3 linked regions of the Homo sapiens genome follow. The protein of the gene in region 2 interacts with the protein of the main gene of each other region in a pairwise test. Each region holds a gene or a part of one and is shown on either strand. Other genes may lie near its edges.

Region 1 (7,871 bases), on a different chromosome or scaffold from region 2:
TGTGTTAATATTTTATTGTATCACATTTGAAATGCCTAGCCAATTTTTGTATTTTTAATAGAGACAAGGTTTTTTGCATAGCCAAAAAAATAGATATATGCCTTTAAAAATGTGATGCTTGATTAATGTTGTCTTCATTATAAAGCTGTTTGGCACACTGGGGTAAATACCAGGTTTTGAATTAAGACAAAAATCTAATTCCTAATTTGCCACAATTCTTTGTACGATCTTGGGAAAGAATATTAGATTTCTTAATTCTTTGTTAAAAAGAGATAATAGGCCAGTGCACTGGCTCACGCCTGTAATCCCAGTACTTAGGTAGGCCGAGGTGGGTGGATCACAAGGTCAGAAGTTTGAGACCAGCCTGGCTAACTTGGTGAAACCTTGTCTCTATTAAAAATACAAAAATTAGCTGGGAGTGGTGGTGCGTGCCTGTAGTCCCAGCTACTCGGGAGGCTGACACAGGAGAATCGCTTGAACCTGGGAGGCGGAGGTTGCAGTGAGCCGAGATTGTGCCACCGCACTCCATCCTGGGCAACAAGCATGAGACTCCATCTTAAAAAAAAGAAAAGGGAAAAAGGGAAGGAGGGAGGGAGAAAGGGAAAGAAGGAGGGAGTAGGTAGGCAAATCAGTCTAAAAGGTGAACTTAAAAACAAAATAATTCGAGGCTGCCCCTGGGTGTGGCAAGAAAAAAATTTAGAAGAAAAAGAAAACAAAAGAAAATCTATGCCTATTTAAATCTCAAAAATAGAAATAACTGATCAATACTGAAAGGTAACAGTTATAAGATAAGGTTGAGCAGAGTTCTAATTGAATATCTATTCTGTCTTCTCTATACCTCTCATGACCCCTGTATTTGGGGAGAGCTGAGGGAGGAAACTATAAATTAAATGCCTTTCAGCTGGATGTGGTTTCTCATGCCTGTAATCCTAGCACTTTGGGAGGCCGAGGTGGGTGGATTACTTGAGGCCAGGAATTCAAGACCAGCCTGGCTATCATGGTGAAACCCTGTCTCTACCAAAAATACAAAAATTAGCCAGGAGTGGTGGCGGGCACCTGTAATCCCAGCTACTCTGGAGGCTGAGGCAAGACAATCGCTTGAACCCGGGAAGCGGAGGTTGCAGCGATCTGAGATCATGCCACTGCACTTTAGCCTGGGTGACAGAGTAAGACTCTGTTTCTACAAAAAAAAAAAAAGACTTTTACGCAAAGGAACAAAGTACCTTCCAATCTGCAATAATAACTCTTGAATATAACAATTTATAAAGATAGGTGTTGTATATTGATGCTCATCTTGTGTGTCTAACATTTAAAAACCTAGTGAGTTCAAATACTAACTGTATACTGAAAATATTTTTACAATAAAATATGAGTTCACAGTTGTTATGCTAGGAATCTCAGAGCATATAGTAAAATTAGTTTCAGGTATAGAAATACTTAAATCTATTTTTTCTTTCTGCCCATTTCCACTTTAAGATTAATGGGAGAGAAATAAAATGATTAGTTTGAAAATAGATTATCTTGAGAATTTTTCTACCATAATAATAAATAAAGACAAAAAAGAAGTCATTTCTAAATAGTTACTTGAATACTGTCAGGTGGTTAGTAAACTCTTCTCACACAGAAGGAAAACATAAATCAAAACATTCCCAGTCTTATCTGTAAACCTTGTTAAGCAATAATAAATATTGCCCAATGCATGACAGGAGTCCACACTGTTTTCCACAGAACACCGAGATGATTACCGCAGTGCCTTCTCTCCTGGGAACAGTGCACCTCTACCATAGATGCAGTCCTCTTCACTAGGCTTCTTGAATAAGATCATTCAGAAACAATTCACTTTTGGGCCAGTTGGGGTGGCTCATGCCTGTAATCCCAGCACTTCGGGAGGCCGAGGCAGGCAGATCACCTGAGGTCAGGAGTTCAAGACAAGTTCAAGACCTGTCTCTACTAAAAAATACAAAAATGAGCTGGGCATGGTGGCACACGCCTGTAATCCCAGCTACTCAGGAGGCTGAGGCAGGAGAATCACTTGAGCCCGGGAGGCGCAGGTTGCAGTGAGCAGAGATCATGCCACTGCACTCCAGCCTGGGCAACAGAGCAAGACTCCCTCTCAGGAAAAAAATAAATAAATAAATAATTCACTTTTAACAAGCAAAAATATATTTCTTTTCTTTCTTTCTTTCTCTTTTTTTCATTTTTTTGAGATGACATCTCGCTCTTGTCACCCAGGCTGGAGTGCAATGGCACGATCTCAGCTCACTGCAACCTGTCTCCCAGGTTCAAGCGATTCTCTTGCCTCAACCTCCCGAGTAGCTGGGATTACAGGTGCTTGCCACCATGCCTTGCTAATTTTTGTGTTTTTAGTAGAGACGGGGTTTCATCATGTTGGCCAGGCTGGTCTCGAACTCCTGACCCTCAGGTGATCCACCCGCCTCAGCCTCCCAAAGTGCTGGGATTACAGGTGTGAGCCACCATGCCCGGCCCAAATATATTTCTTTTCAAAAGAATTGTAAACCTACTCAACTGACATAAAACATGTCTATAATAAGAAATGGCAATAATCATAATACTATATTCTTAGTTGACTGTCCTATGAAAGAAAAGTACCTAATACCTGTGTGAGTGTTTTTGGTAAAGACAGAGTTATCACCTTTTCTGCCTTAAGAATATATATATTTCTGGCTAAGCACAGTGGCTCATGCCTGTAATCCCAGCACTTTGGGAGGCCGAGGCAGGCGGATCACCTAAGGTCAGGAGTTGAAGACCAGCCTGACCAACACAGAGAAACCCTGTCTCTAATAAAAATACAAAAATTAGCCGGGCATGGTGGCATGCGCCTGTAATCCCAGCTACTTGGGAGGCTGAGACAGGAGAATCACTTGAACCCGGGAGGTGGAGGTTGCGGTGAGCCGAGGTCATGCCATTGCACTCCAGCCTGGGCAACAAGAGTGAAACTCCGTCTCAAAAAAAAAAAAAAAAAAAAAAAAAAAAAAAGAATATATACATTTCCTTTAGAGACAGGGTCTTGCTGTGTTGCCCAGGCTGGACTCATAATCCCGGGCTCAAGTGATCCTCCTGCCTCAGCCTCCCAAGTAGCTAGGACTACAGGTGCATGCCACTGCACCCAGCTAACAATATATTATTTATTCAAATCAACCTGCTACCAACAAGGTGTAGTGTTCCCGATTTCAACACTTCAAAAAATCAAAATTTACAATTCAATTAATAAAAATAACACCTCAGCAAAAATCATATTTTCACATTCTTTAAAAAAAATCCAGTCAATACCTTATTTTGAAGTCACATAACACTGACTCAAATCATGATAATCGGTTGACTTTCTACTTTAACACAGTAGCTTCATTCCTGGCATCTATTTAAAGGCTCGGTACAAAAGACTGAGGCAAAGAGCAGGGTAAAAAATCTAAAACTTTCACATCAAATCTTAAGATGTCAACAAACTACAAAGCAAATCAACAGATACTGACACATCAGATGAAAGAAAACCATAACTGCCAACTTTTCAGTTGAATCTTGTAGGTTTTGATCCGCCACTGATCTCAAGTTAGAATAAAGTCCATTACTATCAGAAACAAAAACTGTTTACATAAGATCCTATAGCCTCCATGACTTTAAACGGAGGGGACTGGAATCTGCTTGGCTGAAGTGCTGTCATATTCCTGCACTAAGTCATTAGTGGTGTGATAATGCATGGCAATATATGAATTGGCAAATCCAAAAGAGTTTACTGGCTGTAAGTTACATGGGCTGCTCTCCTCCTGGGAAGGGCTGCTGTTATAGATGCTGTAGTAAGGTTCAATCCGAGTGTTGATGGGGGTCGAGCTGCTCTGACCACAGTGTTGATGTCCAGCAGAGATCTTGGGACTCACCATACTTTCTTTTGAATGACTTGGGCCACAAGCCTGGTCCACAAATTTCTTCTGTGGCTTTGGAGATAACATGTAGGCAGAGTTTGTTTCATGATGGGAGGATTTGTTTCTGTTGACTTCGAGGTTCCCTTTTCCCATGGCTCGAAGTCGAGTCTTTTGTTTGCAGCAGAAAAAACCCAGGCCTATGTATTGGAGGCACCAGAGCACTTTCCTTCTCAGCCCTGCACTGTTCCGAGAATATATAAAAGGGTTTAATCCTGACTTGAAAAATATAAGAGTAAATCCAAACAATTCAAACTGGTAAAGAATGAAGCTCCCATTGCTGGAGAGAACCACCTGTACCAAGGAAATCCCCAGTGGAAGACAGCACACCAGGACTGACAGCACAATGATCACACAGGTGACCACGGCTTTGGAATCCTTGGCAGTGGAGAGGTTGATGGCTGATACGAGCTGGAGTCGGCTTGCTGCAGGGGTGACCAGTTGGTTGGGACTCTTGGTATATCCACGGGTCTGAACGTGCTGCAGTTTGTTGTAATTCTGGTTCCTATACAGAGCCGGCATGGCACACTGGATGGGATCTCCACCTCCCTGCACAGGGACCCCCATGAAAGGCTGTGGTCTGGAAGCATCGACTGTGATTACAGGGGGGCACTTTCTGACTTGAGCGTTCTTCCGCAGGGTCTGAGCAATCATGATGTAAGAGACAGAGACCACAGCAACACAGAAGGTGAAGTCGACCACATAGAGAGACAAAATGGCTTTCCCTTTTCCAGCAATCAGACTGGACATGGGAAGACAGAGGTGGGACTTGCTGGTTTTCAAGGTAGCCAAGGTGGCAAGGGTGAAACTGGTGGCCCAGAGAAGCAGGGTGAGGAGTACGGTGCAGGGAAAGGAGGCCGTGCGATTAGGCTGTTTCCCCAACACCATCCGGAGCCGGTGCAGGGCGATCACTGCCACTGTCTTCAGAGACATGATGATGAAGCCTGAACTGGTGAGATGGAAAGTGAAGCAGAAAGCATCCGGGATACTACTGGCTGAGCTGAAGAATAACACAAAGGTGAACATGGGGGCTGTCACTCCACAAATGAAGAGGTCACAGAAGGACAGGTTCAGGATCATGAAATCAAAGTTGGTTCTGAATTTCCTGAAGGCTGGATCGAAGAAGGACAAGAAGACAATGAAGTTGCCATAGGAACCCAGGCAGAAGATGACCGCCAGTAGAAAAGTACAGGTCACCAAGGTGGCTGTGTGGATGAGATCCTGAAGACCCTCCTGGAGAGAGGTGCTGTTTCCTTCCTGTGAGTGAGGCACATGGAGCGAGGTGGCATTGGGGGCATCCTGAAGGTGGCCTGTTGAGTTCATTTTCGGAGAGAAATGTCTCCTTCTTCTGCTCCCCAAAAATACTCAGTGAGTCAGGGCCTCAGCTCACAGATGAGCAATATGTGACAAAAGAGGCCCAAGACAGATAAGCCTACACACAAAAATGCACACCCAGAAACAGAAAGGGATTAATGTAGAAACAGAAAGGAATTCATACAGTGATCTCATTATTAGTAGTAGTATTAGTACTAGTATCTCTCACCTTGAGAGAAAAATTTATTCATTTATTAGCAATGGGGTCTTACCATGTTGCCCAGGCTGGACTTGAACTCCTGTGCTCAAGCAGTCCTCCTGGCTTAGCTTCCCAAGTAGCTGGGACTACAGGCATGCACCACCAAACCCAGCTCTCTCTCTCTCTTTTTTTTTTTTAACAAAACACTAGAATTTTTCAGCTCTGATTTGGTGCATAGACAGCATTTCTCCTCACAAAGGCCAACACAGAAAAAGATACAAATACATTCATCCAGCTAATATTTAGTTTTATGACACAGAGGTTTTCAAACAAGTTTAAGTGTCACCTGAAGAGCATGTTAAAAAGTTTAAGTTATCACTTGGAGAGCAGATTTCTTGGCCTCGCCCCTTGTGATTCTGTTTGAGGGGTGTGCAGATGTTACTTTTAGAAACACTTCTGTGTCAGGCACTGAAGATACACAAGAACGTAATCTCTCCACCAAAGAGATGACAATCTAGTTGGAGATCAATCTAACTATGTAATAATTACAGCCTAATAAGGTTGCAGGGTGCTATGAGAGCATGGAAGGGGGGAACCTACTCCAACATGGAAAGGGAGCTGGGAAAGGATAAAGGGAGCTTTAGCAAGCACAGGCCAGCTGGATGAAAGGTCGGGGGTATGGAGTGGGGACAGACAGGCTAAGAGAAGTGGGGGTAGGTCTTTGCAGCAGAAGCACTGCGGCAAAAAACTGCATGTGCTTGAAATATAGGCTGGAGGGTATTGTTGATGCATAATGTGGCCCTTCACATAATTCCCATAAATCATTAACAAACCCTGTTTCGTTCCCTATGAAGAATCCTTTATTTCCCAGTATTTATAATTTTTCCCCCAGCTTGCAATTTCTTGGCCAATTAACTACATATTCTCCTTTGGAAAAAAACCTTGTGTAGGACTACATGTGAGACGGAAAACTGGAAGTAACCAAGGATGTTGGAATTATATTAGAAATTTACAAGGTGCAAAGCACCACATTGTAAAGTCTAAACTGCTATATAAATGTGAGTTACCATTATCCCAACAAGAATATCCTGATGGTGAAGCAGGAGGCATGCACCCATTCCTGCATTCGTTCGCTCAATTTATATTAATTATGTGCATACCATATGCCAGCATTACGCCAGGTGCTAGGTGCTACGATGAGTAAGGCAGTCTCTACTTTAAAAGAATAACTTCTTGCTCCTTTTTCCTAACTTTTTTTTTTCTATTTTGCAATGAGACTTAATGTGCACTCACACAAATCTACATTGTCCCAAATCCCAAAGTCCTGCAAGGGTTGGTGCCCAACCTGCTCCCAACAGATGCTTCTGGTGGGACCGACTAAGCTGTTCCTTGGAGACAGCACTATGTTCTTGACAACCAAAAAGGGTTTGCCTTAATCTAGAATTTTAGGAACAATAAGTGGCACTGCAGAGGTCCAGGGCTGATGTTCAGTGTACTTAACCACCAGCTCAAGCTGGATCCCAGAAGCCTCCAGCTGTTAACCCTTTAGTTGCCAGATCAAGGGGGTACAGCGGAATGAACCAGGTCAGTCAGGGATTACCTGGGGCTCCAATTAGCAGCTATGGACTACCCAATACAGAAGTCTCTCCACATTTAACAACAGATACAGCCATGCCAGTGACTATCAGACATATACCAGTCCTGGGAAATCCATATAATTGACTGGTGTCCTTAATCAAGGAAAAAGATAACTTAATCTATATTCTTAACATTCATATGGTACAGATCAGGACGATATGGTGAATTTGTCCACTGGAAAGTGAGACCAACTTTTCTATACTTTCCTTTCAAATAAAAGTTCCATAAGAGAAGAAAATCCTGAACTTTTGTTTCTTGATGGTTAGAATTTTTTAAAAATAGTACCAGATAGCTCTATTTCCACTTAAAGGCTGTATATTTGTTTCTGAACACTTTTGATACCTATATAATGAGAAAGACAATTTTTTTTTTTTTTTTTTTTTTTTTTTTGAGACGGAGTCTCGCTCTGTCGCCCAGGCGGGACTGCGGACTGCAGTGGCGCAATCTCGGCTCACTGCAAGCTCCGCTTCCCGGGTTCACGCCATTCTCCTGCCTCAGCCTCCCGAGTAGCTGGGACTACAGGCGCCCGCCACCGTGCCCGGCTAATTTTTTTTTTGTATTTTTAGTAGAGACGGGGTTTCACCTTGTTAGCCAGGATGGTCTCGATCTCCTGACCTCATGATCCACCCGCCTCGGCCTCCCAAAGTGCTGGGATTACAGGCGTGAGCCACCGCGCCCGGCCGAGAAAGACAATTTTTTACTGTTTTTAAAAGTTGCTAACAGGAGTATTACAGCTAATTTATGAAAAGGGAAGTAGAAGAGAAAACAATTTGAGGAGGCAGGAA
Region 2 (7,871 bases):
TCATTACTAGCCATGTGACTTTGGAGCAGGTAATTTCACCTCAAACTTCATCTGTAAAACAGAGATAATAGTGCCTAGCTCAGAGTGTTGTCATGGGAATTAAATGCAGATAGATAAATAAATGCATATTTACATATTTGTTTATTTATAAATCACCTAGCAAATGGCCTAGTACATTCGTAGGCACCCAATCAATGGTAGTTGTGCTAACATGCAAAGGAGGAGAGGGATGGTGAAGCAGTCTGGATGCAGAAGCTTTCTACTGGCTTTTGTAGGACTGGGCCGAACTCTAGACACTTTCTGGCAGAAGGCTCTGCAGTCCCAGGTCACCTCCCCCACCAGTGAGTGTCAGTGTTAACCAGTACACTCTGGGTTGTTTTCAGAGGCTGCATAAGGAGCTACCGCTCAGCCTGGAGGAACTGGAGGATGTGTTTGATGCCCTGGATGCTGATGGCAATGGCTATCTGACCCCACAGGAGTTCACTACTGGATTTAGTAAGTTCTGATGGGTGCTGGGGACCTCAGGGTTATGGGTCTACCTAACACTGTATAAGGTGCATTCCTGTCCCTTGTAGACCTGGGGGGCAGGTAGTAAAGCTTTCCTGCCCTCCTTTCAGGGACCTGGAGCTCAAGGTCTCCAGGCTCTAGATTGCTTGGGCCTCCTCACATGCCCGTCTCAACTGCTTACATTGCCGCTTGCTCAGTGCCCACTGCACTGCCATTACCAAGCTCCCTCCCACTGGGACTGGCAAGGGAGATGGACGGAAGCTCTGCAGAAGCCATAGCATAAAAGGGGGAGCTGTGATGAGATTTGCAGCCTCTCCTTTTCTGCCTTCATAGAAAAATGGCCAAAAGGTGGGACAACTGGATGGCTCATTCCAACCCAAGTCTGGCTGAATTTTCCAGGTTGAGGGATAACAGCTATCAGAGGAATTTCTAGAAGGTTTGAACAGACTAGACATTCTCAAGGTAACCAGGAGGAAGAAGAATCGAGATCTATGAACAATATAAAGAAACCAGACACACTATCCTATCAGATACATCAAAAGCCATATATCTGCCTTATGTGTGGGGCCATATAATTTTCTTGTAAGTATCTGATGCCTTTCCTGACCTTCAGGAGCTTCTAATTGACTTGGGAGGATAAGACAGACTGCTGTAACACTGGACAGTATGAGTATGGAGGAAGTACACTGGAAACTGTTAAGGAGCTTGTAGATGTGAAGTCTAGTGATGCTAGCGGGAGGATGACTAGGATGACAATAGGAGCCTCTGCAGTCAGGGTGCTGGAATGCAGTGCAGGGAAAGGCCTTGTTGCTTAAAGAAGAAATCAACGGAGATGCGTTCTAAGCCAGATGTTAAGGGACTGAGAACCACAAAGGAGACACCGTATCCGTCTTACATTCTGCCATTCCCAGATTCTAGCATCACTGATGGGGTGTTTGTGGAAGTGGAAAAGTCACAGAATCTGGAACGTGTCCACGGACCCATGTCCATGGATCTTTGCTGGAGGGGCTTTCCCTTCCCTTTCCTTCTCTCAGATGAACCTTCAATGATTCCTGGCAGGTGAGAAAGCTGAGCTCTTCCTGGATGGGTATGGTCTAATTCGGATCCTTGTGCCCTGCACCCCCCAGGTCACTTCTTCTTCAGCCAGAATAACCCAAGTCAGGAAGATGCAGGTGAACAGGTGGCCCAGCGCCATGAAGAGAAGGTGTATCTGTCCAGAGGGGATGAGGATCTGGGCGACATGGGCGAAGATGAGGAAGCCCAGTTCCGGATGCTGATGGACAGACTTGGAGCCCAAAAGGTGTTGGAAGAGTAAGTGGTGACAGTGATTTGTAGAACGGAGACCAGCCTGGTAGGAACCTCTTCCTGTGTCCATTCAACAATTAACATTTGTTAACCATGTGGTGCTGGTCCCTGCACTGGAATGCAGTGCAGGTAAAGGCCCGCTGGTTCTGCCAGTGGGGGCCTGTCCTTTGTGATGACCTGGCTGTGTGTTGGGCTCTGTCTCTGCTGTTTACATTTTTTTTTCTTTAGGAATCATTCCTATTCTCCTTCTCTCCCACCCCCTCTACCTTCCTCACTCCTGGCCATGCATTATCCCCCAGTCCTTGGCTCAGCCTTGCTCCTCATGAGGCACTCACACATCAGAGGTCTGTACCATGCTCTCAGGGTTTTTCATGGAGTTCTCCCTAAGGCTTCCTATCACCATCAGCTCCCCAGCATCTTTACCTCTCCTGGGTCTCTAGAGCTACGGTGCCTCCCAGCTGCCCCAGCTGTGGGTGCCTTCCTGGCCAAAACCCATCATGTGGAAGCATTTGCACACGGTATCCTCGGCAAACCAGGCTTGTGCAGGAAGCCAAGGTGGGAAATGAAGCAGTTTTTAGCAGGCCACTACTTGGAAAATTGTAGATGGCTGAGATCTCAAACAAAACATAACTACCCCTCCACCATTTTTTTTCCTAAAATGTGCTTTGGAATAGACACAGGGATCTAAGCCCTGACATTGAAGTAAAGTAAAATAAAATAAGGAAAATGTGGTGTTACAGCTAGTAGAAACCAAACAGAGGGCCTGAAAAGCATGTAATACCTTCTGCCCCTTTAGCCTTTGCCTTTGGCCTTTTTGTTTTGGGGTCCTTAGGTCTTGGGTTAGATGTATGTTTCCTGTAGTGTGGGAATGCCCTACTGATTACAGCTGACATTTCCTGAGCTTGGGAAGAGAAGGGGCTAGGGTGGAAAATGATAAAAAGGAGACAAGAGAGAAGAGGCCTATATACGATTTGCAGGCCGAAGCTCTGTGAATTTTTCAGCAAACAATTTGGTAGACTGTGGCAGAACTGGGAAAGGCTGGCGAAAGTGTGTTCCAGGCAAGAAAGGGATAGGCAAGTGCCTGGGGAAGATCCTGGTGGGGGCGCTACACAGGAAGTGGAACTCAAGACCAGCAGCAGTAGCAGGTTTGCTGAAGGCCTGGAAGGGGCTGCAGCAGGTGTCGACCACAGAAGGTGTAGCTGGCAGGTGGAAGGGGCACAGGTGGGTGGGAAGCTCATTAGTCATACACCTGACCCAGCTTCTCCAAGGACAACAGGCCAGAGCACAGAGACCATTCCTGGTGACAGTGTGACACCTCCTCCTGGAGAAGGGGGAAGGAGAAGGCAGTGCAGGTGAGCTGAGGCACCGTAACGGAAGGAAGGGGCCTCTCTGCCCAGCCCTCACTGCAGGGTAGCAGCCTTACTGGCAAGGTTCTCAATTAGAGTCCACCAGACGTGACTCTGAGGACCTATAGTAAGGCAGTGCAGAACTGAGCCAAAATGAGATGTCCCGAAGAAGAGGAGGTTTTGTGGAGGTTTCAAGAGTGGTCTGTAAAAGATGATACACAGAAGATGGTGACCAGCCACTTCCATCCTCACTGAAGTGGGCTTAGATTGCAGCATGAGGGAAACATTCACGGCTGTGAGACCTCAGATAGGGAAATAGAAAAGGCTATGAATATTTGAGGGCTCTTTAAAGATTTTGCTCACCAAAATGATTTGTGTGTTGTTCTGGAAGCAGTGAAATGGATTGATAAACCTCCCAGAATCCTTTCTAGCCTATACTCCCATATCCTCCCAGGAGGGGTGGCCTTGGTGTGTTCTAGAAGTTCGAGACTGGGCATCTGCACTTTGACTTTTCTTGGTGGTCCGATTGGCTAAGCGATTTGGCAGCTTAGTGAGCTTTGGCTTGTTTTTCATCAAAAGTTGAAAGACTTGTCCCTTCTCCAGAAATCTGGGGCAAGTTGTTGTTGCCATGACTAAGTAGTTCAAAGAGTGTTGGAAGAGGAGCAGGTGGGTCTGCAAATCTCACTGGGGACTTGAGCTCAGTTGGCTCCATCAGGAACCTGGCAGGTGTGGACAGACAGACCTGGGCTGGCAAGGTGAACCTTGATTTTACAATGCATTTACTTCATGGTGGCGTGTCTCAGTCCATTTGGTTTGCTGTAATACCTGCCATAGATGTGGTACTTTATATAAATAACCAAAATTTATTTCTGGCAGTTCTGGAAGCTAGGAAGTTCAAGATCAAGGTGCCAGCAGATTTGCTCTCTGATGAGGTCACATTCCCTCATTCACAGACAGTTGTCTTCTCACTGTGTCCTCATATGGCAGGAAGGGTGAATGAGCTTCCTCTGGCCTCTTTTATAAGGGCACTAGTGCCATTCGTGAGGGCTCTGCCTTCATGATCTAATCACCTCTCAAAGTCCTCATCTTCTGGCACCATCATGTTGGGGTTAGGATTTAAACATATGAATTTGTAGGAGATATAAACATTCACACCACAGCAGGGAACAACCTATAACAGGGATGGGAGGTCACCATGGTGTCTCTCTGAGACCCTCTTATCTCTGAACCCTTTGCCACATCTAAATTTTACCTATAGGATGAAATAAGACCCCCACAACATGCTGTGTGTGTGTTGTGGGGCTGGGAGGAATGGAACTCATTCTGAGAAACAGAGAGGTTCCTTACCTCCTTTTCTCCCATTTCCCAGATTCACCCATGACATCCAGTACAGTGCAAGGTTTACAACAGATCATAATAAATACTTGTTGAGTTAATAAGGAAATGGGTGGGTGGATGGATGGATGGATGGATGGTCTAAATAAGTACGCGGATGTTTGGATGGGATAGAAGAAAGAATTGGTGGAAGTGATGGAGCAAGGAAAGGAGGGAGAGAGGGATGAAGTGTTAGAGATGACCAGATAACTGATCAGAGGTGGGCCTATTTCTCAGTGGTCCTCTTCTCTGCTGGGTGCAGAGAGTCATGTCCATTTCCCAAGAGCGTTGCTAGCATGGCACTATTGAATATCCCTTCTGAATAAGGTTTCTAAAATATAATGCTTAATAACGCAAGCACAAAGGATTTTATTCCTTCTCCTGAGGGTTCCTTGTCAGAGCTATCCTCAGATCTTCTGTTTCTGGAATTTAATGGAAGACAAGTCACATTTACGTTTCTGTTTTTGTGGTTTTTGTCTTAAAGTGATTTATTAGTGAGGTACTCCCAGAAGAAACTGGCAAGGGATTTGGGGAAGTGGGACAGGGAAAGGAAGTAAAACAAATAATGGCGTAATTTTAGGAAGAGTCCTGGTTCTCCAGGGGTATTATTTATGTAGTCATAATAGTATAAACATTTATTTAATATCATATTTGGGAGTTAGCATACAGAGTTTTAAAACAATACTAATTATAGAACACAGTGTCAATGGCACTAGTCCCATTTGTGAGGGCTCTGCCTTCATGATCTAATCACCTCTCAAAGGCCTCACCTACTGATGCCATCATGTTGGGGGTTAGGATTTAAACATATGAATTTGTAGGAGATATAAACATTCACACCACAGCAGGGAGCAAGCTGCCACAGGGATGGGAGGTCACCACCCATTTCTCAGTGGGCCTCTTCTCTGCAGGGTGCAGAGAGTAATGTCTATACCACAGGGGCATTGCTAGCATGACACTAACAAATATCACTTCCGAAGAAAATTTCTAAAATATAATGCTTGTTATACAAGCACAGATAATTTTATTCTTTATCCTGAGGATTCCTGGGGAGCCAACAGGAATCTGTTGGTGGCAGATTGTCAAGGTGCAGATGACTGTAATGGACAAGCAAATTTTGGAAAGAGCTCAAGAGAAGTATAGGCATACAGATAACTTTATCCTCATAAAACGAGGGTCATAAGCGATTTTCCATAATCAGGTTAAATTAATTAAATGTGAAATATACATTACATAAAGTCTCAAAGTTTAACAGAGTAAAAAATCAAAATGTAATTATGTTGAAAGGATGGAAGGAGGTGAAGGACTTATATTTTCAATAGCTGGAAACTTGAAAGATTAAGACACAGAGTGAATATTTAAGTAACAAAAGACTTTGAGAAGACAATGAACTGAGCTAGTTATTACATCTTGTTATATAGATGTGAAAAAAGTGTTGGAAAATACATATGTGCCCATTAATTTAAAAAAATCAAAAGCCTGATTGTTTGCGGGATAAGATTTATATTTATTCTCTACTTTGCTAGAATAAAGTTTAATTGATAATTTATAATAAACTAGCCTGTGAAATTTCACTTGAACTCTACTGTTTATTATTATATAACTTTCAAACTTGATGCTATAACACTCTACTGTCTGCTAGCTGTGAGAAATTATTAACTTTTATTGAATTAAAACCTATCCTCTTTCAGATTTATGTTTAACTTAGCTTGATCATTGGCCACAGATTTTTTAGTTTCCCCAGAAAGGGAGAACAGGGTCCACCATGTGTGTCTCCTCCTCATTCCCTCCCTGGGTGTCAGCCTGAGCCCCTGTATCTCTGTCACTGAGCTGTGTACACACGTGCCTCTGTGCCTTTGTCTATTGGCCTCTGGGTCTCCCAAGTCTCTCTCGCCTTGTCTTTCTGTGTGTGCGCATCTTTCAGACTTGCTCCTTCCCTTCTTTTTGCCTGTCAGTCATCCCTAGTGCCACTAGGCCACAGTGGGGTGCTGCATATTCTCTTCCCTTCCTGCAGTGACAATTGCTTTCTGCCATCCATCACATGGCACGTCTTTACCTCTCAGCAGTGAGGACCATCCTTCCTGGGGGCAACGAGCTCTCTGCTTTAGCTCCATAGTGTGTGTCCTTAAACGCACTGGGCTCCTGTCCTCCTGTCTTCTTCCTGGCATTTGGAGATGCACCAGAGCATGTTGCTGTGCACGCCCAGCCCCACGAGCCCGTCGTGAAGGCCACGGGAGAACAGAAGCAGCAGAGCGAGGTGGGGAAGGAGGCCAACACCGGAGTCAGACAGCCCTGAGCTGGACCCCTGACTCCATCAGTGACTGCTGGGTGATCTTAGACAGCTCACTCCACCTCTCTTCACCTGCTTCGTCATCTGTAAATGGGGTAATTGCAGCTCCTGCCTTGTAGGGTTATTGTGAGGACGAAATGAGCTGATATCCTTGAAGCTCCTCACATGCAGCAAGCATTCGGTCCACGTTAGCTACTGTCATCTTTATAATGATTCTGACGGTACTGTTTCTGGCTGTCAGTTTCCTGTCTGGGAACCTCTGTATTTCCCGTGAAGCCTCATCTCCACACTTCCACATGAGCGTCCCTTCTCTTGCAGTGAAAGTGATGTCAAGCAGCTCTGGTTGCAGCTGAAGAAGGAGGAACCTCATTTACTGTCCAACTTTGAAGACTTCCTGACCAGAATCATCTCCCAGCTCCAAGAAGCCCATGAGGAGAAGAATGAACTGGAGTGTGCCCTAAAAAGGTGGGTACCCCAGTGTCAGCCGCTTTCTGTAACTATGTGTGAAAAAGAGAGACACACGGTGCACTTTCTCTTAGATCTTCTGCCAAAACATCGTGCAATGCCTCCTTTTGCTGTCTGCCAAAGTGGGGACCAGGCCCTGTGTCTGTCACGATATATGTATTTTTAAGCTCTCCGTCACCTTTTTAAGCTATATGGTAGGCACTATTCTAAATACTTTTTATACACTAGCTTATTTAGTTCTCACCACAACGCTTTGAAGGAGGGACTGGTTATCATTTTGCACATTTATTATCTGCACATTTTGCAGGCGGAGGGTTGGAAACCCAGAAAGGTTAAGTAGTACACCCCAGAAGGCATAGCTTGTGAACAGTAGAGCCAGGACTGGGAGTGAGCTAGCCAGGTGCCTGTGACCAGAAGAAAAATCACTCTGCTTGCCTCCAGGCAGTAAGACCCCAGCATACTGGGCCATCCCCCAGGGCCAGATCAGCCCACTTTGCAGAGGTGGCGTGTTTGGTAAGGTGACCTATAGCCCTGCTGAATGTCCCTCCTCCTGGCCGCTCTCTCCCGTCACGGCCTCATGTCTC
Region 3 (7,871 bases), on a different chromosome or scaffold from region 2:
AGGTTGCAGTGAGCTGAGATCGTGCCATTGCACTCCAGCCTGGGTGACAGTGCGAGACTCTGTCTCAAAAAAAAAAAAAAAAAAAAAAAGAACTACCTGCCTTGGGTACCTCAGTGTCTAAGGCTGAGGGGAAGTCATCACCAGCACAAAGAAGCTTTGCTGTTTTCTTAGAGGTTTTTCTGAAGGTCATACAACAATTGTAGGTAATGAAACAACTAGGAAGTTGGTAGGAGAGACAAAGGCTGGCAATTGATTTAGAAGGAAACTAACTGGCTTACATTTTAGATGGAATAGTAAGCAAGTTAAGTATATAATAAGCAAGTAAGTATATAGCTTTAAATAAATAGACTAGGCCAGGTGCAGTGGCTCACACCTATAATTCCAGCACTTTGGGAGGCTGAGGTGGGTGGATCACCTGAGGTCAGGAGTTCAAGACCAGCCTGGCCAACATGGTGAAACCCCGTCCCTACTAAAAATGCAAAAATTAGCCGGGTGTAGTGGAGGACACTGGTGGAGGATGCCTGTAATCCAGCTACTCGGGAGGCTGAGGCAGGAGAATCACTTGAACCAGGGAGGTGAGGTTGCAGTGAGCCAAGATTGCGCCATTGCACTCCAGCCTGGGTGACAGAGCGAGACTTTGTCTCAAAATAAATAAATAAATAGACTAAATTTTTCTCCAGTGAAACGGATTGCCCGTAAAATTTTAGAAAAAAAAAGGAAGATGAAGTGTCTACACTCTCCATCCTTGAACAATACTGCAAGTAAAGATCCTCCCGGGTGCTCTATTTAGCTCAAGCCATTACTAGACTGAACTGCAGGAGGAAGCAAGGCCTCACCTCCAGCCAAACATGCAACGGGAAATTCATAACAAGCAATCAGGTATGAATGCAGAAGGGGCTTCCCCAGGAAAAGAAACGAACACAGGAACATTGATAGAGCTAAATCTGCCCAGCCCTGTAGCCTCCAGTGGCCACTTTCCAGCCCCTCTTGCCTGAGGATCCTCAGCAACAAGGTGCCCAGGAACCTGAGGTGGCAGAAACACTACTCCACCCACCCCTCCATCCCTGATACCTGCTGACAGCATTGACCACAAGCCTCAGCTGCTCCTCGGCTGAGGCTGTCTGCTGCTGCCACCGACGCCTGGCCTCCTGAGCACGGCTCAGCTCCAACTGCAGGCCCTGGGGAGGATGCAGCAAAGGACAGGGTCCCTCCCTAAGTCCTGGCTGCAGCCCCGGAACAGGGGCTCCCTTGCCCTCCCCGAGTCTCTAGTAGGCTGACACCAACCTTGGCACCCATACGCTCCACCTCCACCTCTGCGGCTTTGTCCTGCAGGGATCGCTGCAGGATGGCCTGCTCCTGGCTCTGGGATGTCACTTTTTCCTGGAGTGAGGCCACCTGGGGGAGGAGAGAGAGCTAGGCAGGGCCCTCTAGAGCTAAAAGATGAGGGGGGCACTGGAAGCAAAGTGGCAGGTGCAGAGATCTCTGTAAGAATGCCATGCAGGGGCTGGGGGGAGGGGGGGCGGGCGACGGGGGTGGGTTGCAGCACGGTGGCTCACACCTGTAATCCCAGCACTTTGGGAGGCCGAGGCAGATGGATCACTTGAGGTCAGGGGTTCAAGATCAGCCTGACCAACATGGTGAAAGCCTGTCTCTACTAAAAATACAAAAATTAGCTGAGCGTGATGGCATGTGCCTGTAATCCCAGCTACTCGGGAGGCTGAGGCAGGAGAATCACTTGAACCTGGGAGGCGGAGGTTGCAGTGAGCTGAGATCAGGCCACTGCACTCCAGCCTGGTGACAAGAACAAGACTCCTTCTCAAAAAAAAAAAAAAAAAAAAAAGAAAAGAAAAAGAATGAATGCCACGCAGGGAGACAGAAGCTTAGGTTCTGAGGATGGAATCTGAGCCCAGTGTTCCATGTTCCACATTCCATGTGCCCACTCAAAGATGGGAATAGCCCTTGACCCACCCCACAAGACCCACCAACTGACCATGCCACTCTCCTCAGATGCTGTCACCTCCTCAGAGAGGCTGTCTCTGAGCATCCTACCTGAGGCTGACTCACCCCACAGTCTCTCCGTCACATTATCTTTTGAATTTTTCTTACTACTTTCTTTTTTTTTGAGAAAAGATCTCGCTTTGTCACCCAGGCTAGAGTGCAGTGATGGGATCACAGTTCACTGTGGCCTCGCCTCGACCTCCCAGCCTCAGGTGATCCTCCCACCTCATCCTCCAGAGTAGCTGGGACTACAGGAATGAGCCACTATGACCGGCTAATTTTTTGTATTTTTAGTAGAGACGGGATTTCACATGTTGCCCAGGCTGGTCTCGAACTCCTGACCTCCAGTGATCCACCTGCCTCGGTCTCCCAAACTGTTGGCATTACTTGACTGGGCACGGTGGCTCACACCTGTAATCCCATCACTTTGGGAGGCTGAGGCAGGTGAATCACCTGAGGTCAGGAGTTCAAGACCAAAGTGATCGCATTATAGGTGTGAGCCACTGCACCTGGCTTCAATCTTTCTATCGCACATATAATTACCCAACATTATCTGTTTACTTGCGTGTTCTGTGTCTCTGTTCTAGAATGCAAGCTCCACATTTTAGTTTTGTTCAGGGCTGTGTGCCCAGCATGTGGCAACCACTCAATAAACACTGGTTGAATGGATGCCACCTTCATGGAAGGAGCAAGGTGCTGGGAGGGAATACCGGGAGAAAAGAGAGTGCAGTGACCTGTCCCTTCAGCTGCTTAACAGAGTCACTGTGTTCCAGCTCCTGGGCCTTTAGCTGCACCATGAGGGCAAACACCTTCTCCCGCCAGCGGTTCAGCAGGGACTGGCACTTCCTGGTAAACTCAGGCTCCAGGGAATCTGAAGGTTGAACCTGAGGGAGAAGGAGTGGGAGAAAAGTGTGGGCTCCTGGGGGAGGAGAGGAAGGAGGTGGCATCTTTGTTTCTCCTCTGTCCTGCCTGGGCAACATGAGCTACAGCAAGAGGAGTTCACAGGAAGGAGATCTAAGCAGGTTCTGGGGCACATTGACCCCTCCTGCCCACAGGGAGGGAGGCAGGGGACAGTAGATGCAGGATGCGGCTGAGGGTGAGGGGTCTGGGGGTTGGGCTGTACCTTCCTGGTCAGCTCCTCCTCCTGCAGGGCGAGGATGTGTGTGAGGCTCTGCACCCGCACCTGCAGCAGCTCCGCGGTGGCATGCAGGCTGTCCCGGTCCTCCTGCAAGTGCTGCGGGCAGAGGAAAGCAGCCCCTCTGTAGGGCCTCCATGCCGCCTTAGGTACCACCTTCTCTCCCGGAGGCTGTGCTCTACACGCTCCTCCAAGGGCCACGCTTGCCTCCCAACCTGATCCCTAAGTCTGCACACAGATACATTCCTGCACCCTCACCTGCATGGTTTCCAGAAGCTTCTGTCGCTCCAGTTCCCATGTCTGGCTGTGGACCTCAGAAGGCACTTGTTCCCCAACATATTTTCTTAGATTCTCAACCAGGGTCACCTGAGCCTCCAAGTCTTCCTGGGTCTTGCTAGGGTTGGGGTGGGAATGGGACAGCCATCAGTGGGGCGCCCTGCAGATCCACCACATCACTAATTGCTGGGCTCCCGTCGGCGTCCGCCCACCTACCTCAGCTGCTTCCGAAGCAGCTCGGCCTCCCTCTGAGCCTCGGCCAGCTCCTTGGCTTCCCCTGCTCTTCTGGTTTCCAGACTACTCAGAGACTTCTCCAAGCCCTCAGCCTTGCTGGTCAAACTGGAAAGAGCCTCCTCGTGAGCCTGTGTCAAAGAGGACAGCTGCGGAAAGAAGAGGGGGCTCAGCAGAGGCTCGACCCCACATGGAGGCCTTCCTTGTTCCCTTCACTCCCACTTTCTGTGACCTTAGAGAATGACCCAACCAATCAGCCAACTGTGCACAGCAAATGGAGAGCTGGCAACTCACTCTCCGCAGCTGCCCCACAACCCATCAGGAGTTCTTGTCCGATCTCCCCCAAAACATATCTTCACCTCTCTGTCTCCGTCTCCACTGCCACCAACCCTCATCTTTTGCCTGGGCAACAGCGACCATCTCCTAACTAGTCTTTACAAACCCTCAGTGGCTTCTCACAGCATTCACAACAAAACCCAGGTGTCTCTCCACACCTGCAGGCCAGGGGACCCGGCCTCTGCCTACCTCCTGAGCTCACCCTGGAGGCTCTCCCACTGCTCCCCGCTCCGGCCACGGGGAGTCTGCTGAGAACCAGACAGCGGCCCCTCCTTGCTCCACAGACCCCAGGCGATAGCCCCTCCTCAGGGTGGCTTCACTGGGCCCTCTAATACCGTCCCTCCCCACCCTACTCTGCCCCATCAGCTGTTCACGTCCTCCTGAGCACTTAGCACTGACCATATCTTGCTTATGTGTATGTGTTACTATCTGTCGGACCACACTGGAAGGAAAGCTCCAGGAAAGGAGGAATTTTGTGTCTTTTGCTCATGGCACCTCAAAGGGTTGCAGGGGTGTCAGAGCCACCAAGAGTCATGGGATGGACTGGAAAGGAGGGCAAAGTGCCCACCCTGCTTCCTGGTCTGCCTCCTCTAGCCCTGTCTCCATACAACAATAAAATTAATTTGGGGGACATAAATGACAAAATTTTTTAGACATAAAATACAAATCTAATCATGTTATTTCCCTGCTTAAAACCTTTCAACAGGCCGGGCGCAGTGGCTCATTCCTGTAATTCCAGCACTTTGGGAGGCCGAGGTGGGTGGATCACAAGGTCAGGAGATCGAGATCATCCTGGCTAACATGGTGAAACCCCGTCTCTATTAAAATACAAAAAATTAGCTGGGCGTGGTGGCGGGCGCCTGTAGTCCCAGCTACTCGGAAGAATGACTTGAACCCGGGAGGCGGAGCTGGCAGTGAGCCAAGATCGCGCCACTGCACTCCAGCCTGGGCGACAGAGCGAGACTCCATCTCAAAAAAAAAAAAAAAACAACCTTTCAACGGTTGCTTATTACTTGAAAAAACAATTTTTTTTTGTTTGTTTTTTTGGAGATGGAGTTTCACTTTGTTGCCTAGACTGGAGTGCAATGGCACGATCTCAGCTCACTGCAAACGCTGCCTCCCAGGTTCAAGCGATTCTCCTGCCTCACCCTCCTGAGTAGCTGAGATTACAGGCATGAGCCACCACGCCCAGCTAATTTTTGTATTTTTAGTAGAGATGAGGTTTTACCATGTTGGCCAGGCTGGTCTCGAACTCCTGACCTCAAGTGATCCACCCGCCTCAGCTTCCCAAAGTGCTAGGATTACACATGTGAGCAACCATGCCCAGCCCTAATTTCTTCCATAAAATAGAGATGGGGGTCTCGCTTTGTTGCCCAGGCTGGTCTCAAACTCCTGGGCTCAAATGATCCTTCCACCTTGGCCTCCCAAAGTGCTAGGATTACAGGTATGAGCCACTGTGCCCAGCCTGCTCATTGCTCTTATGGGAAAGTAGCAAGTTCTGAAGTGGCCAAAGCCTTGTGCCCTGGGCCCTGGGCTCTGCAGCACACTCAGTGCCCCTCATCTCTGTGCCCCAGCCTTCTGGCCTCCTGTCCCCGCCTTCACCTGTTGTCCCACCAAGTGTCTTCCAGCTACCACTGGACTTCACACGCCTCTTCACTGGCCAACTCCTATTCAGCACAAACGGTAGCTTGTTGTTTTTTTAGTCTCGCTCTGCTGCCCAGGCTGGAGTGTGATGTCAGCTCACTGTAACCTCTGTCTCCCAGGTTCAAGCAATTCTCCTGCCTCAGCCTCCCAAGAAGCTGGGGGATTACAGGCGCCCACGACTATACCCGGCTAATTTTTGTATTTTTTTGTAGAGTTCTTCATGTTGGCCAGGTTGGTCTTTAACTCCTGGCCTCAAGTGATCCGCCCACCTCGGCCTCCCAAAGTGCTGGGATTACAGGCATGAGCCACTGTGCCTGGCCTAGCTTCTTGTTTCTAAGTTTCTTTCATAAATCTCCTTTGTCCATTTTCTGATTGGATTGCTGGTCTTTCCCTTACCAATTTCTAGGCACACATTTTATATTAGGGATATTACCCTTTTCTTGTGATCTGAGCTATAAATATAGCTTTTTTTTTTCTTTTTGGCTATTCCTAATGTTCATGTTATAAAGTCAATGGATCAATTTTTTCCTTTATGGCTTCTAGATTTTGGATTTTGACTCACAGGTAGAAAGGCCTTGCCCACTACAAGGTTATAAAGGAATTCTCCCTTGTTTTCTCCCAGTTCCTTTTTTATTTTATTTTTTGAGACAGAGTCTTGCTCTGTCGCCCAGGCTGGAGTGCAATGGCACAGTCTCGGCTCACTGCAACCTCCACTGCCCAGGTTCAAGTGATTCTCCTGCCTCGGCCTCCCAAGTAGCTGGGATTACAGGTGCGCACCACCACGCCTGGTGAATTTTTGTATTTTTAGTAGAGACAGGGTTTCGCCATGTTGGCCAGGCTGGTCTTGAACTCCTGACCTTGTGATCTGCCTGCTTCGGCCTCCCAAAATGCTGGGATTACAGGCGTGAGCCACTGCGCCCAGGGCTATGGTTTCTTTCCTTGACATGTCAACTGGTTACAGTGGCCTTCCCTGAACCCCAGACTAAGTTAGTGCTTTCTAGTCCTTCTCCTTCAAGGCATTCCTCCTGATTGCAATTAATTATGATTAAATTAAATGTGGATGTGTATATCCCCCACGAGGCTGTCAGTTCCATCCACGAAGGCAGGACTCAGGCTAATTTGGTCACTGAGTCTTAGAGATGGCAAAGAGTAAGTACTGAGTTTGAGGACTGAATAATCTCTCTCTCCCAGTCCACCATAGCCCCCTTATACCCACCTTCCTCACTGCCCTCCACAATACCCCTGATGAATTGGTACCTGGAGTAAAGTAGGGAGGCAAACTATTTCCTACTAGAAAGGGAAGCAGGGCTTCAAGTGGTGGGAGGCCACCTGAGTCTTGGGGGAAAAGTGCAACCTGAATTAAGATAAAAGTACCCAAATTCTCCATCTTTCTAGGCCATGTGTGTTTATTTTCACCAAAGGTCTCATCACTCTACTACTCACTACTCATGGAGGGTCTTTTCTGCAATACCTGTTCTTTGCTTGGAAGCTACTGCCCAGCTCTCCGTTATGAATTTGAATCCTTTCTACCCCTGCATTCACCTGCTCTTGGTGCAGCCTCTGAACCTCTTCCAGCTCCCGCTGGCTCCCCTCTTCCAAGTTCTTCCGGACAACCTCAGCCCCAGCCAAAGCAGCACGCAGGCCCTCAGCCTCAGCTCGGCCGGCCTTCTCCGCCCGTGCCAGAGCCTCTAGCTCCATGGCCTGGGCCTCTAGCCTCATCTTCTGCTGCAGCGAGGTCTCCCGCAGGAGCCGGACCTCCTCCTCCAGCCGCCGCAGCTCTTGCAGCTGCCGAACGATCACCTCAGCCTGCTGGCTCAGGGCCTGTGACCCCTCCAGCCCCCAGGACCTTCAAAGACAGGTTAGTGCAGGTGAGACTTGTCTCCAGTGCTGGAAGGATAGTTGAGGGCATAAACATAGCCAGGAGAAGGAAAAGAGGACCCCTCTGCTTCCGTGTGGGGAGGTGAAGGGGGTGCTGAAGCTGGGGTATGGGGATGTCTGCATTGACATCATCATCATTCATCAAAGCCCTATTGAGCATGTTGAGTCCAGTGCCTGGACTCACAGGACCTAAAGTCTGGCTGAGATCGTGGAACATGATCTCCCTAGAGAGAGCTACATACAGGAGGATTCAACATCAAATGTGTATATCATTAGGCCACACATTCTTTTTGTTTTTTGGTGGTTTTTTTGTCTTATTTATTTTTTTATTTTTAGGCCACACATTTTAAGTGGAAAGGTTGGAAGAACACAC

What was found.
Region 1: the proteins of CRACR2A (region 2) and GPR75-ASB3 interact in binary tests that used the Homo sapiens proteins (3 or more experiments, as listed by UniProt).
Region 3: the proteins of CRACR2A (region 2) and CCHCR1 interact in binary tests that used the Homo sapiens proteins (3 or more experiments, as listed by UniProt).

The regions. Positions count from the first base shown.
Region 1 is NC_000002.12:53,849,499-53,857,369, forward strand, and holds part of GPR75-ASB3 (GPR75-ASB3 protein), read right to left. Parts: intron 5,368-7,871; exon of another isoform or gene 5,259-5,367; coding exon of another isoform or gene 3,636-5,258; exon of another isoform or gene 3,414-3,635; intron 1-3,413. Other genes in the region: GPR75 (probable G-protein coupled receptor 75), read right to left, coding at 3,636-5,258. UniProt on the Homo sapiens protein: Probable substrate-recognition component of a SCF-like ECS (Elongin-Cullin-SOCS-box protein) E3 ubiquitin-protein ligase complex which mediates the ubiquitination and subsequent proteasomal degradation of target proteins. Recognizes TNFRSF1B.
Region 2 is NC_000012.12:3,672,862-3,680,732, reverse strand, and holds part of CRACR2A (EF-hand calcium-binding domain-containing protein 4B), read left to right. Parts: intron 1-383; coding exon 384-495; intron 496-1,634; coding exon 1,635-1,818; intron 1,819-7,140; coding exon 7,141-7,287; intron 7,288-7,871.
Region 3 is NC_000006.12:31,147,334-31,155,204, forward strand, and holds part of CCHCR1 (coiled-coil alpha-helical rod protein 1), read right to left. Parts: intron 7,467-7,871; coding exon 7,163-7,466; intron 3,790-7,162; coding exon 3,626-3,789; intron 3,528-3,625; coding exon 3,392-3,527; intron 3,233-3,391; coding exon 3,122-3,232; intron 2,883-3,121; coding exon 2,733-2,882; intron 1,396-2,732; coding exon 1,285-1,395; intron 1,179-1,284; coding exon 1,072-1,178; intron 1-1,071. UniProt on the Homo sapiens protein: May be a regulator of keratinocyte proliferation or differentiation.